Linked DNA regions of Homo sapiens: region 1 is linked to region 2. A link means that fine-mapping ties the variant in region 2 to the expression of a gene that starts in the linked region. Tissue or cell type: thyroid. Region 2 holds a variant in brackets; the other region holds the start of a gene. All regions are shown on one strand. Distances are between the middles of the regions.

Region 1 (5,000 bases), 49 kb after region 2:
AAATCAGCACTGAAGGCCCTGGAAGCATTAAGTCCTGGCCATCAGCCTCTAGTGCTAAGAAATAGGTTCAAGTTCTTGTTTCCCCATATAAACAGGTAAGAAAGGCTACATGCCTCTGGGCCTTTGCACGTGCTGTGGCCTCTGCCCGGAATGCCCTCATTCAGTCGGGGAATCCGTGCTCATCCCTCCACCTTCGTGGAGGGACGCCTGTGCTGGGTTGGTTTGGAGAGGAAGCCGGAACTGCGTGGGTTCAAATCCTGTCTGACTCTGTCACCTATACTTTGTGAAACCCGGACAGTGGCTATGCTTCTCTGAACCTCAGTTTCCCCTTTTGTAACATAGAACTTACCATCAGGAAATGTTTGACCCCCCCACCATGGAACAGGCCCCACTTCTTGACGTCAGCAGCACCCCCATTCGCCTACCCGGAGGCGGTTTCTCTATTTTAAGAGGCTGCGGGCGGGTTGGCATCTAACTGGGGCTGGAGGCGGGACTGCCCCCCCACCAACACCACGCTGCTCGCCAATCCCGCCCCGCCCCCTCCTTTCCGCCCAAGTCCCCCACTCTTGCCTCTGGCCTCAGCGCCTCCAGTTCTGCCCCACCCCCGCGCGGCCAGAGACCGGGTGTCTCTGATCTGCAGCTCAGCCCGTGCCTTCCCTGACCACTCCCGACCTGGCTTCCCATCACCTGCTGAGTTCGCAGTCCCGCAGCTACCGGTGCGGCTCCAGGTTGGAGACCCGCCGGCCCCATTCCTCTCACCCCCTCAACCCGCCCGGAGCTAACCTCAGTCCCCGACCCCCACCCCACCTGCTCAGTCCTCCCTAGGTTCCAGCTTCTGTCAACCTCTTTCATTTCCCTAAATACCGCCCCCCGCTGCAATGCCTCGCCACCCTTGGCTGCCTCCTCTACCCCAGGGCTCCCAGCAATGACTGGGTCAGGCGCCTCCTTCACTTGCTGTGAGTCCCTTATCACAACTGATCACTCCGTGGGGTCACCGCTGCTCTGGCGTCTACCTCCCCCAACAGGTTGGGGTTTCTAGGAGGGCAGCTCCAGAGGTTGCAGAACACTCCGCTGCCTCTCCAGAGCCAGGCACACAGCAGGCGCTCCATAAATGTTCGTTGGGTAAGTGCTGAATCCCAGGTTCCCTACCTGAAAACTTGGTGGCTTCTTAAGGGTGTGGTCTAAGTCCCAGAGGAAAATGGCCAAATCTTAATTCCTGTTTTTCTTTTCTTATAATGGGGACACTGAGGCCCAGAGAAGTCAAAGGGTGGCTGCCCGGGGTCATGTAGTCCCTGTGTGGCTTCAAACTTAGGCTTCTGCTGTCCCCGACGCCTGTGTCCCTACCTCCTGATGACACAGCCTCCTAAACATAAACTCAGTAAAAGGAGGACCCTATGGCTCATTGGAAAACTGAGGCCCAGAGAAGCAAGGGTGCCCTCCCCCCAGGTCACACTGCTGGTTGGCAGCGCCTTGTGCCGTAAGAGAGCTGGTTGAGGGCGCAGATCGAATCCCAGCTAGGCGACCTCTGGAGAGTGGCTTTCCGGGACTAGAGCCTCAGTTTCCTTATTCTGACAAATGGGCGCCTGACAGCCCCAACCTCCCCAGGTCGTCGTAGGGCTGAGCTGAGGGTGTACAGTGGTGCAGCGACGACCCAAGGAGGTATTAATACATATGAACTCATATTAATACATCGCTAGTAATAGGACTAAAACAACCATGAACATATGGTGAGCTCTCTGGCTGCTGTTGCTAGCATTATTATTAGAACAGCTGGTGGGGAGGGGCAGAGCCCTCAGCCTCTTCCTCCCACGCCATCGCTTGGAGCCTCAGTTTCCCTAGATGTCCAAGGGGGCACCTTCCCCCTTCCCACCATGAGAAAAAGCACTTTGAGAAGCGGGTGGTCAAAAAGAAGCGATCTGAGCGTTCCCCACCCTCTGCCTCAGTTTCCCTACAGCCCGTGAAGGCCCCGCCCCTCCCGGCACCTTTCAGGCCGCGTCCACTTGGCCGCGCCCTCTGCCTTCCGCCCGCCCGCGCAGGGGCCTCACCTGGAGCCCGCGGCGCCGCAGGAGGCTCGACTCGTCCATGGCCCGGGAGTCCGCGCCGCCAGGCCCGCCCCCGGCCCCGCCCCGGCCTGCCAGGCCCCGCCGCCAGGTGCCATTGGCCAGGCCGGTCAGCTGACACGGCCTGGCCCCGCCCCTCCCGGGGAGCCCGACCACAGGGCCCCGCCCCCACTGGGCGAGCTGGCCCCGCCCCTCCAGCAGAGCGCAGAAGTAAATATTTTGCATGAATCCTCTCAGAAGTAAGGCAGCATCGTTCAGCCCCATTTTGCAGATGAAGAAACTGAGGCTAAGATAGGTTAATCAATATGCCCAGCGCATTGGCCGGGCGCAGTGGCTCACGCCTGTATCCCAGCACTTTGGGAGGCCGAGGTGGGCAGATCACTTGAGGTCAGGAGTTCGAGATCACCCTGGCCAACATGGTGAAACCCTGTCTCTACTAAACAAAAAAAACCAAAACAAAACAAAAAAAAAATTACTTGGGGGTGGTGACGCGCGCCTGTAATCCCAGCTACTCAGAAGACTGAGGCAGGAGAATCGCTTGAATCCAAGAGGCGGAGGTTACAGTGAGCCGGGATAGCGCCGCTGCACTCCAGACTGGGCGACAGAGCGAGACTCTGTCTCAAAAACAAAAACAAAACAACAACAAAAAATGTGCCCAGTACACACAGCAGAACGGGTTCTAGGGTGAGGCGAGTGAGGATCTCACCCCTGTGCAAAATTTAAGGTGGCCCCACAAAACTCAGCCATCAAGAGAAATAATATTTTAAAAACATAAAATTAATGAAAACATTTATGATGAACAAAACATCAAAACTTTTATTTTTTATTTTATTTTTAGAGACGGGGATCTCACTATGTTGCCCAGGCTGGTCTTGAACTCCTGGCCTCAAAAGATCCTTCTGCCTAGGCCTCCCAAAGTGTTGGGATTACAGGTGTCAGCCACCGCATATGGCCAAAACACCAAAACTTTTTTTTTTTTTTTTTAATTTATGAGACGAGTCTCTCTGTTGCCCAGACTAGAATGCAGTGGCATGATCTCGGCAACCCCTGCCTCCTGGGTTCAAGCTATTCTCATGCCTCAGCCTCCCTAGTAGCTGGGACTACAGGTGCCCACCACCACACCAGGCTGATTTTTTGTATTTTTGGTAGAGATGAGGTCTCACCATGTTGGCCAGGCTTGTCTCGAACTCCTGGCCTCAGGTGATTCACCCACCTTAGCCTCCCAAAGTTCTGGGATTGCAGGCCAAAGAGTTTTGGTGTTTTGCCTGGCCAAAACACTAAAACTCTTAAGACATGATCAGACCCTTGTCCTTGCACCACTCAGCCTTGTTTGCCTCCCTTTAATCCTGGCCCTGGTGCCAATAAAACTTTACTTACAAAAGCAGGTAGCCGCTGCAGTTGTCAGTTTCTTTTTTGAGGATGATTGCCTTTTTGCCCTAAGTGTCTCATAAACACCATCTCTCACAGATATTTGAAGATAATTGTTCTACTCCATTTTGCAGGAGGGGAAACTGAGGCTGAGAAAAGCCCAAAGTCCCAAAATAGCACCCACATTTAAAAAAAAATTTTTTTTTTGAGACAGGGTCTCTCTCTGTCACCCAGGCTGGAGTGCAGTGGTGCAATCTTGTCTCATTGCAGCCTCTACCTCCCGGGCTCAAGCGATCTTCCTGCCTCAGCCCCCATACCCCAGCTCCCAGAGTAGGTGGGACCACAGGCACATGCCACCATGCCTGGCTAATTTTTTTGGGTTTTTTTTGTAGAGATGGAGTACCGCCATGTTTCCCGCGCTGGTCTCGAACTCCTGGCCTCAAGTGATGCTCCTGCATCAGCCTCCCAAAGCGCTGGGACTACAGGCATGAGCCACTGTGCCTGGCTTAGCACCTGCATTTTTTCTTTCCCTGGGACTCGCACTTTCTCTGCAGCCGCAGTTGTCTTCGGCTGCCCCACTGTACAGTGTGGACACTGGAGTATGCTTTCAGGCTCGAGGGGACCCTAGGAAGGGTCACTGGGCCTGACTGTCCATGAGGTACTGTAGAATTGCATCAAGTTATGGTGGCCAGATTGAGCAAATAAAAATACAGGATGCCAGGGAAAACTTGTTTTTCTCATACAATTTTAAAAATTGACATATAATTCACATACCATAAAATTCACGCTTTTAAAGTGTGCAATAAATTCAGTGTTTTAAGCATACTCACAGAGTTGTGTAACCATCACCACGATCTGATTCCAGGACATTTGTATCATCCCCAAAAGAAACCCTGTACCTATTAGCAGCCAGTCCTCATTCCCCCTCTCTCAGCCCCTGGCAACTACCAATCTGCTTCCTGTTCTATGAATTTTCCTGTGCTGGATATTTCATAAAAATGAAAACATAACATGTGGCCTTATGTGTCTGGCTTCGTTCAGCATCATGCTTTCAAGATGCACCCATGTTGTGGCAAATATCAGTACTTCATTCCGTTTCATGACCAAATAATATTCCATTGTATATATGTACATGTACATTTTGTTGATCCACTCATTTGTTGGTGGTCACTTGGATTTTTTCACATTTTGGTAGCTATTCTGAATAGAGCTGCTATAAACATTGGCATACAACTTTTTGCATAGATTTATTTCTTTATTTATTTATTTTGAGATGAAGTGTTGCTCTGATGCCCAGGCTGGAGTGCAGTCGCGGGATCTTGGCTCACTGCAACCTCTGCCTCCCAGGTTCAATTGATTCTCCTGCCTCAGCCTCCTGAGTAGCTGGGATTACAGACACCCGCCACCACTCCCAGCTAATTTTTGCATTTTTAGTAGAGACGGGGGTTTCACCATGTTGGCCAGGCTGGTCTCAAACTCCTGACCTTTAAGTGATCCATCCACCTTGGCCTCCCGAAAGGCTGGGATTGCAGGTGTGAGCTACCGCCCCCTGCCTTTGTGGATATATTTTGG
Region 2 (5,656 bases):
TTTTGTTTTTGAGACAGGGTCTTGCTCTGTTGCCCAGACTGTAGTGCACTGGCTCAATCATAGCCTCAACCTCCTGGGCTGAAGTGATCCTCACAACTCAGCCTCCTGAGTAGCTGGGACAACAGGTGCACGTCACCATGGCTGGCTAATTTTTTTTTTTTCAATAGAGTCTCGCTCTGTCACCCAGGCTGGAGTGCAGTGGCATGATCTTGGCTCACTGCAACCTTCACCTCCCAGGTTGAAATGATTCTCGTGCCTCGGCCCCCTAAGTAACTGGGACTACAGGCATGTGCCACCACATCTGGCTAATTTTTGTATTTTTAGTAGAGTTGGGGTTTCACCATGTTGGCCAGGCTGGTCTCAAACTCCTGACCTCAAGTGATCCGCCTGCTTTGGCCTCCCAAAGTGCTGGGATTACAGGCATGAGCCATCATGCCTGGTTCATGCCAGACTTTTCTGCCTCCTGCTCAGGGTTGTTTCCTTGGCCTAGCTCTGGTGAACTCCCACTCACCCATCAAAGCCCCAGCTCCTACTCCCCCTCCTCCAGAAAGCCTTCTCTGTATCACTTCTGTTTTCTTTTTTTTTTTCCCTTTTGTTTTTTGAGATGGGGTCTCACTCTGTTGCCTAGGCTGGAGTGCAGTGGTGCAATCATGGCTCACTGCAGCCTTGACCTCCTGGGCTCAAGTGAGCCTCCCATCTCAGCCTCCAGAGTAGCTGGGACCACATGTGTGCACCACCACAACCACCTAATTTTTTTTTTTGAGATGGAGTTTTGCTCTTGTTGCCCAGGCTGGAGTGCAATGGCTCAATCTCGGCTCACCGCAACCTCCACCTCCTGGGTTCAAGCGATTCTCCTGCCTCAGCCTCCCTAGTAGCTGGGACTACAGGCATGTGCCACCACACCTGGCTGATTTTGTATTTTTAGTACAGACGGGGTTTCTCCATGTTGGCCAGGCTGGTCTTGAACTCCCGACCTCAGGTGATCCACCTGCCTCGGCCTCCCAAAGTGCTGGGATTACAGGTGTGAGCCTCCATGCCCGGCCTCACACCCACCTAATTTTTTTATGTTTTGTACAGATGGGGTCTCCCTGTGTTGCCCAGGCTGGTCTCAAACTCCTGGGCTCAGTGATCCTCCTGCCTCGGGCTCCCAAAGTGTTGGGATTACAGGCGTGAGCCTCCGTGCCTGGCCTCTTCTCAGTTTTCCCACCCTCCTGTCTAGCCCCATTTGTCCATGATGTTTCCTCTGCTGGGTGCATCCTTCCCTGGCACCTGCATTCGTCTCTAAGTACTCCCAGGTTCCCTGCTAGACACCAGGATCCCGGTCATCTTTTTCCCTACATCGTGTCATTCCATCCCCTGAACTCCTTCCTCCCTCCTGGGGCCCACCAGCCCTTGCTCCCAGGGTAGCCGGGGTGGTGGGGGGTCGGGGTGCACCCACCTGCTGGGACATCAGGGGCTGGGCTTCGGCAGGGAGTGGTGGGGCTGGGGGAGAGGCTGTGGGTGGGCGAGCCGGGGAGGCTCTCACTGGATGACAGTGAGTGGTGGAGTCCGGAGGAGAAGCTGCGGCTGGTGTGCAGCACGGAGGTCTGCTTGGAGATCTTCTTGAAAAGTGACTTCCGCCTGGGGTAAGAAAACCGGAGGCTTCAGAACCCCTGCTCCTGGCCAGGCATGGTGGCTCACACCTGTAATCCCAGCACTTTCAGAGGCCGAGGCAGATGGATCATTTAAGGTCAGGAGTTCGAGACCAGCCTGGCCAACATGGCGAAACCCTGTCTCTACTGAAAATATAAAAATTAGCTGGGCATGATGGTGCACGCCGTAGTCCCAGTTACTTAGGGGGCTGAGGCAGGACAGTCGCTTGAACCCGGGAGGTGGAGGTTGCAGTGAGCCGAGATTGAGCCACTGCACTCCAGCCTGGGCAACAGAGCAAGACTCTGTCTCAAAAAAAAAAAAAAAAAAAAAAGGAAAAAGAAAAGAAAAAAAGAACCCCAGTCCCCGTGGCCCCGCCCCCTGTGTACCGCTCCCTGGTGGTCACTGCCGCGCACCGATCCTGGGTCTCCCGCCGACGGCTCCTCTTGCTCCTGCGTGCCATGCGGCCCTTGGCCACATTCTTCCGGGCGGGGCCCACCTTGATGGAGGTGTTCTCCAGGGCTGTGGTCCGCAGGGATATCTTGTTGCCGCTCTGCGGGAGGGATGGTGAGGGGTTGCCTCTGTGCCTCTCACAGGGCCCAGCACTTGCCAGGCAGCTGCTATGTCCCCTTCACTCCGGGCACCAGCTGGGACCCACCACCCCAGCATCCATTCATCCACACAACCAGTGACCTACCCAATATATCCGGTCAAACAATAGCCCAGGGAGCACCACCCCTCCTGCTAAGATCCTTCCCTCTGCGGTCAACGCCGATCGAGGCCTGCCCTCTTCACTCTCCACCCTCCCGGGGTCTGTCACCCACCTATCTGGTATCCACCCATTAATCACCCCAACATCTCCCCATCCCCCAATCACTCACCTAATGGCCCATGAGTCATTAGGCCAAAGACACCTACCCAGTGTCCAGCTATTCAATGAACCACCCATGCAGCTGCCCACATGAGAGCCCTCTATTTTTTTAGAACCAGGGAGGGTCTCACTCTGTGTCCCAGGCTGGAGTGCAGTATGGCACGATCACAGCTCACTATGGCCTCAACCTCCTCGGCCCAAGCGATCCTCTCACCTCAGACTCCTAAGTACCTAGGACTATAGGCGCATGCCACCATGCCTAGCTAATTTTATTTTTTAATTTTTTGCAGAGATGGGGGTCTCGCTCTGTTGCCCAGGCTGGTCTCAAAGTCCTGAGCTCAGGTGATCATCCTGCCTCGGCCTCCCAAAGTGCTGGGATTACAGGCGTGTGCCACCGC[G/A]CCCGGCCCTTCCTCCTGTCTTGAGCCCATCTCCTACCTCCAGGCCTCAGGCCAGAGGGAGGAACAGATGTGAGGGTGCCCAGGGAGAAGGGAGGGCTTCCTGGAGGAGCAGCTCTAAGGGGTGATGTTGGGGGCTGAAGAAGGACATGTATTCTGGGCCGAAGGAAGTGGATGTGCCAGGCCTGGAGTTGACATTGAATGTGGGGTTGTGTGTCTGGACGCGGAGAACCACGGGGAACCGGGAGCTGCGGCCAAGGGGTGCTGGGGAGCCCTGAGGGTGGGCAGTGGGGGTGCCGCACCTTCAGCAGCAGCTCCACGACGTCCATGTGCACCAGCCCCAGCACTGACTCCCCGTTGATGTGGGTGATGAGGTCCCCAGCCCGCAGGCCCGCCTCCTGGGCGGGGCTTCCGTCCTCCACACTCTGGGGGCAGACGAGAACGGTGGGGTCAATGGCCTGGGCCCCACATCTGGGGACCCCAGCCCAGGCTGGGTCTGCTGTGGGACCCCAGCAAGCTGCTGCCTCTTGTGCTGTCTCAGTTTCCCTGATCCTGGGGGAACTCCTACTCACCCATCAAAGCCCCAGCTCCTACGCCCCCTTCTCCAGAAAGCCTTCTGTGTCTGTTCAGGGAGCAACCAATAGGGAGGGCATGCCTCGACGCCCTTGGGCTGGGAGAGGGAGGATAACATGCCCAGTGCGTCCCCATATGGAGCTGGGAGGTTAATGCCACTTGGGATCTGTGAGCTTCCATCCATCCATCCTTGTCTCTCTCATCTGACCTCCTCCCTGCCAAATGACAGGGACCGAGATGAACTCGGTGGCACCAGCTCTATCTACCTAACCCTGCCAGGCTCCAAAATGCAGCTCTGAGAAGGGACATGACCGGGCAGAGTCAAACTAGAACCCGGGTCCCTGCCATTCCCACTCGGCACTCACCCAGACGACGTGGTGCACAGTGTAGACGTCGCTATCACCCATGTAGACGCGGATCGCCCGCAGGCTGAAGCCGTACTTCTTGCCAGAGCTGTGGATAACGATGGGGGGCCGCAGGCTGCCACACACGGGGGACGGGTCTCGGCTCGGCGAAGAGTCACGGGACGACGGGTTCGAGGACAGAGAGCGCGGGGAAAGGGGGCTCATGAGGGGGCCGCCGCTGCCATCATCTGCAGGGGGTTAGGGAGGGGGTCACTCACTCCCTCACAGGTCTCCCCTGGGGCCCCCTCTTTCCCACCACAACGACCACCCTGGCCACTTTGCTGTTGCTTCAATGTCCCAAGCATGGTCACCCCACCAGGCCTTTGCACGTGCAGTGCCCTCTACTGGGAACACCATCTCCCCAGCTCTCCATGTGTCCTACTCCTCCTCCCCTCTTCTGGGGCTCATCCCCAGCCTCCCCAACTCAGGAAGGGCCCCCACCCTGTTGGTGAAAATGGGTGCAGACAGACAAAGGTGAGAGGGGCCTTGGGCATTACCTGCCGTGATGATGAGGGACAGGGCAGAGACAGAGGCTGACTTGGGCACGCGGCCCCCACTGCCGCCACCACTGCCACCGCTGGAGGAGGCTCTGGACTTCTCAGGGGCTGGGTCTCTTGGGCCCCCAAGGCGGCGGCCCCGGCCGGCATCCAGAGGCCTTGGTGTGGAGTGTCGGGCGCCGATGCTATTGCTCCGTAGGCGGGCGTGGCTGAGAGCAGCTGTGTCGGCTAGAGGGTCAGCAGGGTCAGCTGGGTGCCCCTCAAACTCACCATGTGGTCCTAAAGGGACCTTAAGGCCCTTCCTCCCTGGTCACTATTTACACAGTCCAGCCTCCTGGCCTTTGCTCATGCAGTTCCCTCTTCCTGCACTCCCTTCCCAAATTATTCTCTATGCAAAAGTCTTCAAGTCCCCTCCTCCAGGAAGCCTTCCTCCACACCCATTTAGACCCTTAGTTCCCCCATCTTGGGAGCTAGGGGTCCCATCCTGACTCTATGAAGCTGGGGGCATTTACCCTAGACTGGGGTTCCTTGGGGGCTGGGGGTCTCTCTGGGACCCTGGCTTCTCCTCTCTTAAAGCCTTTGTTGGCTCTGGAGAACTCCTACTCATCCTTGAAAACCCATCTCAAATAGCCCCTCCTCTGGGAAACTTCCATGACATCATCCCTCTTACTCAGGGCCCCACTTACCAGAAAGGCTCGAGGGCTTGGGCATCACTGGGGTGGCCGCTGGTGGGGGGTCAGGCTCCCCTAGAATGAAGACGGGCCTCTTGGGGCCTGCAGGGCCTGGGCCTACCCCCTCATCCTCTGATGAGAAGGCAAACTTGGGCATTGTGTCCAGGCTGATGGTATTCAGGAGAGATGGGCTGGGACCCCGCTCGGGCTGGGACGAAGATGACTGACAGGAGGATCCAGAGGATGTCCAGGACCTCAGCCTGCAGGGAGGAAGAGCCTGCATCACCCCTGCCAGGCACCTGCACCCCAGGATACTCAGCCACCTTCATGGCCACATCTTAACTCTCAGTCTGCAGTCAAGGGTAATTTGCATAGACAGGACGAGTTCCTTCTGTCTGCACTGTCCTCTCTGTCCACCTGGAGACCGCTTATTCACCTTTTTTTTTAAAGACAGGGTCTCACTCTGTCACCCAGGCTGAAGTGCAGTGGTGCAATCTCAGCTCACTACAACCACTGCCTCCAGGGCTCAAGTGAGTCTCCTGCCTCAGCCTCCCAAGTAGCTGGGATTATGGGTGCCTGCCGCCACACTGGGCTAATTTTTGTATTTTTAGTAGAG

What was found. PIP is the estimated chance that this variant, and not a neighbour inherited with it, causes the effect.
Region 1: MAST3 starts here. The variant in region 2 is fine-mapped to the expression of MAST3 in thyroid (GTEx, PIP above 0.99).

Annotation. Positions count from the first base shown.
Region 1 is chr19:18,094,877-18,099,876 of GRCh38, reverse strand. It overlaps MAST3 (microtubule associated serine/threonine kinase 3), which reads right to left and starts at 2,099. Exons shown (of 28, transcript NM_001393504.1): 1 at 2,046-2,099. The coding sequence starts at 2,084. It also overlaps a transcript of IL12RB1 not described here. RefSeq lists a silencer at 1,855-2,364.
Region 2 is chr19:18,143,407-18,149,062 of GRCh38, reverse strand. MAST3 (microtubule associated serine/threonine kinase 3) reads right to left here. Exons shown (of 28, transcript NM_001393504.1): 22 at 5,056-5,300; 23 at 4,370-4,597; 24 at 3,834-4,060; 25 at 3,198-3,320; 26 at 2,019-2,182; 27 at 1,439-1,620. It overlaps LOC124904650 (a long non-coding RNA gene), which reads left to right and starts at 5,295. Exons shown (of 3, transcript XR_007067153.1): 1 at 5,295-5,402. RefSeq lists enhancers at 2,780-3,280, 3,281-3,782. The variant G/A (reference allele first, on the strand shown) is at 2,899.